2 separate regions of the Homo sapiens genome follow, and region 1 is linked to region 2. The links come from fine-mapping of genetic effects on gene expression. Tissue or cell type: subcutaneous fat. Region 2 holds a variant in brackets; the other region holds the start of a gene. All regions are shown on one strand. Distances are from middle to middle.

Evidence for each region.
Region 1: RALGPS2 starts here. The variant in region 2 is fine-mapped to the expression of RALGPS2 in subcutaneous fat (GTEx, PIP 0.94). The same link has a PIP of 0.9 or more in thyroid.

The regions. Positions count from the first base shown.
Region 1 is chr1:178,723,600-178,726,517 of GRCh38, forward strand. RALGPS2 (Ral GEF with PH domain and SH3 binding motif 2) reads left to right here and starts at 1,645. Exons shown (of 20, transcript NM_152663.5): 1 at 1,645-1,820. RALGPS2-AS1 (RALGPS2 antisense RNA 1) reads right to left here and starts at 2,685. Exons shown (of 1, transcript NR_187252.1): 1 at 1-2,685. RefSeq lists silencers at 1,419-1,573, 1,475-1,644, 1,905-2,024, 2,225-2,454 and an enhancer at 1,995-2,584.
Region 2 is chr1:178,693,784-178,696,701 of GRCh38, forward strand. No RefSeq gene overlaps it. Among named protein-coding and RNA genes, the nearest start is that of MIR4424, 17 kb to the left of the region's middle. The variant A/T (reference allele first, on the strand shown) is at 1,433.

The sequences.
Region 1 (2,918 bases), 30 kb after region 2:
GTTTCAAGTAATTGTATGACATTTAACAACATAAGAGTTCCGTTCCTCAGTTTTCATATTTCTTAAGAGCAGTTAATTATGTGTGATAATGGTATGTATGTTGCATGTATTATTGTTGGCATATAGCCAACGACATTTTCCTTAATCTCTTAGTAACACTTTAAGAAGACTAAACATTTACCCAACTCAATAACTGGAAGGGGTTTTTCCTCCAAGTGCTAATTCATTTAGTTGTTGTTTATTTGGGACTTGAAGCAACTAACATCTATGCGAAAACTTTCTGTATACATAATGCACTTCCCTCCTTTTTACCAATCATCTTCCTTTTTCTTTTCTTTTTTGGACTCTTGTCATTTGAAATATTGGGTGGGGGGGAACGCTTTTTTTCTTCTTTTGATTGCTCTACTTCTTCTAGTGATTTCGTCATGATTCAAGACTTTCTTTGAAAGTAAAATGGAATAAAAATGAAACACTACGAACTTTGTTGCCTATCCTCGCTGTTTTTCTTTTTGACTTAACTTTGCGTTGGGGTGCTTTAAAGTAACCCTATTTGAGAGAAGGAGGTTGAAGGGCATTCTAGCGTCCCCAACTAGAGTAAAAGGGCTATGACAGAAGGCAATCAAAGGAGGAAATAATTAGCAATCTTCAACGTTCAAGATTAATCAGTTCTGTTTAGCGGTTATTAAAGGGAAGAAAGAAACCAAATGGGAATAGTGAATTATTGGTCCTTTCATGTTTTACACTTAATGCTGGTACATAGTATTCTTTCCACATTCTACTGCACATTGCCTAGAGAAAGAACTGCAGATCATCAAATAATTATCCATTTCCAAATGGTCTAATGACAGCAGATACAAAGGCGGCTCACTTAAAACCTTCCGTTAACAGTCACACTGCATCAAATGGTGCTAGCTTTAAGTAGGCCACCCATTTAGTAGACTCTGAAACAACACCTTTCCGCCCAATTTCTGTCATTTGCTCCTTAAGTCAAGGGTAGTACCCTGCGTAACATCTTACAAAGGCCTACTTCTAACACTTCCCGAATCTTAATGTGTGAGGATGTTGATCACCATAATTTATGACCTTATCTAAGACAGTGGGGTGACTCTCCACATTGGGAGCCCCCTCATTTGTCCTCAGTGACTTCTAAAAACACCGCTGGCGTGGGCTGGATATTTGATCTTGGGGCCAAGTGCTTCCAGACTTTGTTCTCTGGCCTTAAAGGTGAAGAGCCCGGCGCTGAAGGCCACAGACATCACGGCGGATTTCACAGAGGGCCGCGTTCCGGGAGCGGGTGGCCAGGCGGTGGCGGACGCCCCACCTGTCCATCCTCCTACCCCTTCCCCCCCCCGTTGTTTGGCCGGTGGGAGCCCCTCCTTTCAGCAGGCGCCGGGCGGTGGGGTTGCGGATGGCTGCGCGCGCTGCGGGCACCGATCACCGGCGGCAGTTGGGCTCCGCGGGGCCGAAAAGCTGCGGGCGGGAAGCGCGAGGTTAAGACCCTGACGGCTGCAGCTCTCAGAGCCCCCGCGAGCGCGCTCCGTTGGTGCGCGCGCGCGCGCGGCTCCGCCCCGCCCGCTTGGCGCGCGCCCCCGCCAGGTCCGCTCTCGTCCCCCACCCCTGGCGCGGACGGGGTGGTTCCAGCTCACTCTCCTCCCCCGAGCGGCAGCGGCGGCGGCGGCGGCGGCTGCTGCGGGCGCTGAATGAGAGACGGTGACTGTTCGGGTCGACGAGTGCTACTCTAGGCGGCGGCGGCCGTGGCGGTGAAGCGTGAGGCCGGCATCGTCTTTCCGTCCTCTGAGGCGACGGCCGCGGCTGCACAGGTCGGTGGGCTCAGGCCGCGGGGCGGTGCGGGGGAGGGAGGGAGGGAGGGTGGGTACGCGGCGCCCCCCGGGCGGCGCGGGGAATGGCGGCGGCGGCGCTGCGGAGTGTGGCTCTCCCGGCCGCGGGCCCCGGGGCTGCTCGCCCTGCGCGCAGGGAGGGGGCTGCGGAGCTGGGGCTGAGGCTGAGGGAGAAGGGCGCTGGGCGGCGCGCCTCCCTCGGCCGCGGGTTCTCAGAGTCGGAGCGGCCGTGGGGTCCCCGCTCGGGGGCGCCGTCCTGAAGCCGGGGGCGCTGCGACCCCTTGAACCCGCCTCGCTCTCCCTCTTGGGTGGCGGAAGCCCCCAGCCTCCGCCCGCTCTGTTCTGGCGCCCAGCGGCGCCTCAGTCTTCCTTCAGGTGAGCCCGATCCCGGACCTCGGAGCCAGGACCAGCAGAAGCCGGGCCACACCCCCTCCCCTGGCCCTGGCGGCTGCGCCCAGAAGCCTGGCCGCAGAGTTGGCCGCCCGCGAACCCGCGGAGTCGCGGTCAGGGTGACCTGTTGCAGAGCGGCCCGCAGCCCGAGCGGCCCCCGCCAGCCCCGGCCCCGGAGGGGCTGCGTCCTGTGCTGGCCTCGGGCCGGGCGCGCGGGCCGGGTGTGGGGCAGGGGCCGCAGCCCCAGGTCGGCTTGCTCTACGGCCTGGAACCGGGCTCTAGAAAAAAAAGGAGATTCCGAACGTATCTCATCAAACACTTGCAAAGCCGGGAGATCTGTCTGCAAATATCCGGAATTCCATTGCAGTATCGGATTAGGTAGGCTCATAAACACCGTGCTTTTGAGGTGATTTGGAAGAAACGCGAGCCACGAGCGAGGAACTAGTTTCTGGAAAATAGCCGTAAACCTGTGCGGAGCGAATTATTAACCCCCCGCCCCAGCTCCCCCCTCGAAGCTCTTTTCCTGTAGCTGTGTGTTGTGTAGACGCAAGCCAGTTTCAGTGTACGTGGGCGTGTTTGGGAAGAAGCTGCGAGCTGATAGGAGGTACCTAGTACAAATGTTAATTTGTTTGAGTTGGGAGGGGTAAGGGAGGAGGAAGAAAGGGCACTGATGTTAGCTGTGGAGGAGGG
Region 2 (2,918 bases):
TTGACTCTATTGCTGGTAAATTTTGCCTGGGAAAAATCCCCAGTCCCAGGAAAGCAATGGAAGATGTACTTTCTCCCATTGAGAGAAACTGGGAACCCACTCAAAATAGGGAGAAGTGAAAAATATTGAAAATGCAAATTAATATGAATGGAATGAGGTAGAGGGTATAAGGGAGTAGAATATAAAATGGTGTGTGCGTGGTGATATTTGACAGACACTGCCAAATTCTTGCTCTCTGCATTTCTTTGATTTGTTTGGTTTATTTTTTTAATTAGTATTTATTTATTTATTTATTTTTATTTATATTTGAGACAGTTTCCCCTCTGTCTCCCAGGCTGGAGTGCAGTGACATGATTTTGGCTCCACTGTAAGCTCTGCCTCTCGAGCTCGAACGATTCTCCTGCCTCAGATTCAGACTCCTTTCCTCTCCTCTCCTCTCCTCTCCTCTCCTCTCCTCTCCTCTCCTCTCTTCTACTTTCCTTTCCTTTTTTTTGAGATGGAGTCTTGCTGTGTTGCCCAGGAGTGCAATGGTGCAATCTCAGCTCACTGCAACCTCCGCCTCCCAGGCTCAAGCGATTCCCCTATCTCAGCCTCTCAAGTAGCTGGGATTACAGGTGCCTGCCACCATGCCCAGCTAATTTTTGTATTTTTAGTAGAGACAGGGTTCCACCATTTTGGCCAGGCTAGTCTCGAACTCCTGACCTCAAGTGATCCACCCGTCTCGGCCTCCCAAAGTGCTGGGATTACAGATGTGAGTCACTACGCCCAGCTTAGCCTCCTGATCATGCCTCAGCCTCCCAAGTAGCTGGGATTGTAAGAGTACGCTGCCATGACTGGCTAATTTTTGTATTTTTAGTAGAAACAGGGTTTTGCCATGTTAGCCAGGCTGGTCTTGAACTCCTGGCCTCAAGTGATCTGCCAGCCTCGGCCTCCCAACGTGCTGAGATTACAGGCATGAGCCACTGCGCCCAGCCTATTTGTTTATTTTTTGAGACAGGGTCTCAGTCTGTCACCTAGGCTGGAGTGCAGTGGCAGGATCTCAGTTCATTGCAATCTCTGCCTCCCAGGCTCAAGGATCCTCCCACTTCAGCTTCCAGAGTAGCTGAGACTGCAGGCATGTGCCACCACACCCAGTTCATTTTTGTATTTTTTTGTAAAGATGGGGTTTGCCATATTGCCCAGGCTGGCCTCAAACTCCTGGGCTCAAGCAATCAACCTACCTTGGCCCACAAGTGCTGGGAACACAGGCATGAGCCTTCGCTCCCAACCTGTTTATTTTATTTTTTTTTAAGACATGGGGTCTCACTATGTTGCCCAGGTTGGACAGTAGTGACTATTCACAGGTGCCATTATAGTGCACTACACTTTGAACTCCAGGTCTCAAGGGATCCTCTTAACTCAGCATTCTGAGTAGCTGGGACTACAGGCACAT[A/T]CCACCAAATCTGGCTGCATTCCTTTTAGGGAGGCTAAGCAAATCAGATCATTCTCTTTCCAAGACCTTCTTTTTGCAAAGTCCACCACAACTGGTTAGTTTAGGCTTTGTCAGTTGCAAACAAACATGGAGGTTTCTTTAATCAGGATGACCTGATGCAACTGAGGATGACCTGAGGTCATCCTGATTAAACGTGAGAGTATTTTTGGACACTTGACTAAATCTTTAATAAATATTGAGTGGATTGAAGAGAATACTAACTATGTAAAAGGGATAGATAGATAGATAGATAGATAGATAGATAGATAGATAGATAGATGATAGATAGATAGTTGATAGATAGATGATAGATAGATAGATAGATAGATAGATAGATAGATAGATGATAGATAGATAGATAGATAGATAGATAGATGATAGATAGATAGATAGATGATAGATAGATGATAGATAGATAGATAGATGATAGATAGATAGATGATAGATAGATAGATAGATGATAGATGATAGATAGATAGATAGATGATAGATAGATGATAGATAGATAGATGATAGATAGATAGATGATAGATAGATAGATGATAGATAGATAGATAGATGATAGATAGATAGATAGATAGATAGATAGATAGATAGATAGATGATAGATAGATAGATGATAGATAGATAGATAGATAGATAGATGATAGATAGATAGATAGATGATAGATAGATAGATAGATAGATGATAGATAGATGATAGATAGATAGATAGATAGATAGATAGATAGATAGATGATAGATAGATAGATAGATGATAGATAGATAGATGATAGATAGATAGATGATAGATAGATAGATAGATGATAGATAGATGATAGATAGATGATAGATAGATAGATAGATAGATGATAGATAGATAGATAGGTAGATAGATAGATAGATAGATGATAGATAGATAGATAGATGATAGATAGATAGATGATAGATAGATAGATGATAGATAGATAGATAGATGATAGATAGATAGATGATAGATAGATAGATAGGTAGATAGATAGATGATAGATGATAGATAGATGATAGATAGATGATAGATAGATGATAGATAGATAGATAGATGATAGATAGATGATAGATGATAGATAGATAGATAGATAGATTAGATAGATAGAGTAGATAGATAAGATAGATAGATTGGTAGATTGGGCTGGGCGCAGTGGCTCACGGCTGTAATATTAACACTTTGGAAGGCAAGGCAGACGGATCACCTAAGGTCAGGAATTCAAGACAAGCCTGGCCAACATGGTGAAACCCTGTCTTCACTAAAAATACAAAAATTAGCCGGGCATGGTGACGCATGCCTGTAATCCCGGCTACTTGGGAGGCTGAGGCAGGAGAATCGCTTGAATCCAGGAGGCGGAGGTTGCAGTGAGCTGAGATTGTGAGCCACTGCACTCCAGCCTGGGCGACAGAGCCAGACTCCATCTCAAAAAACAAAAATGAT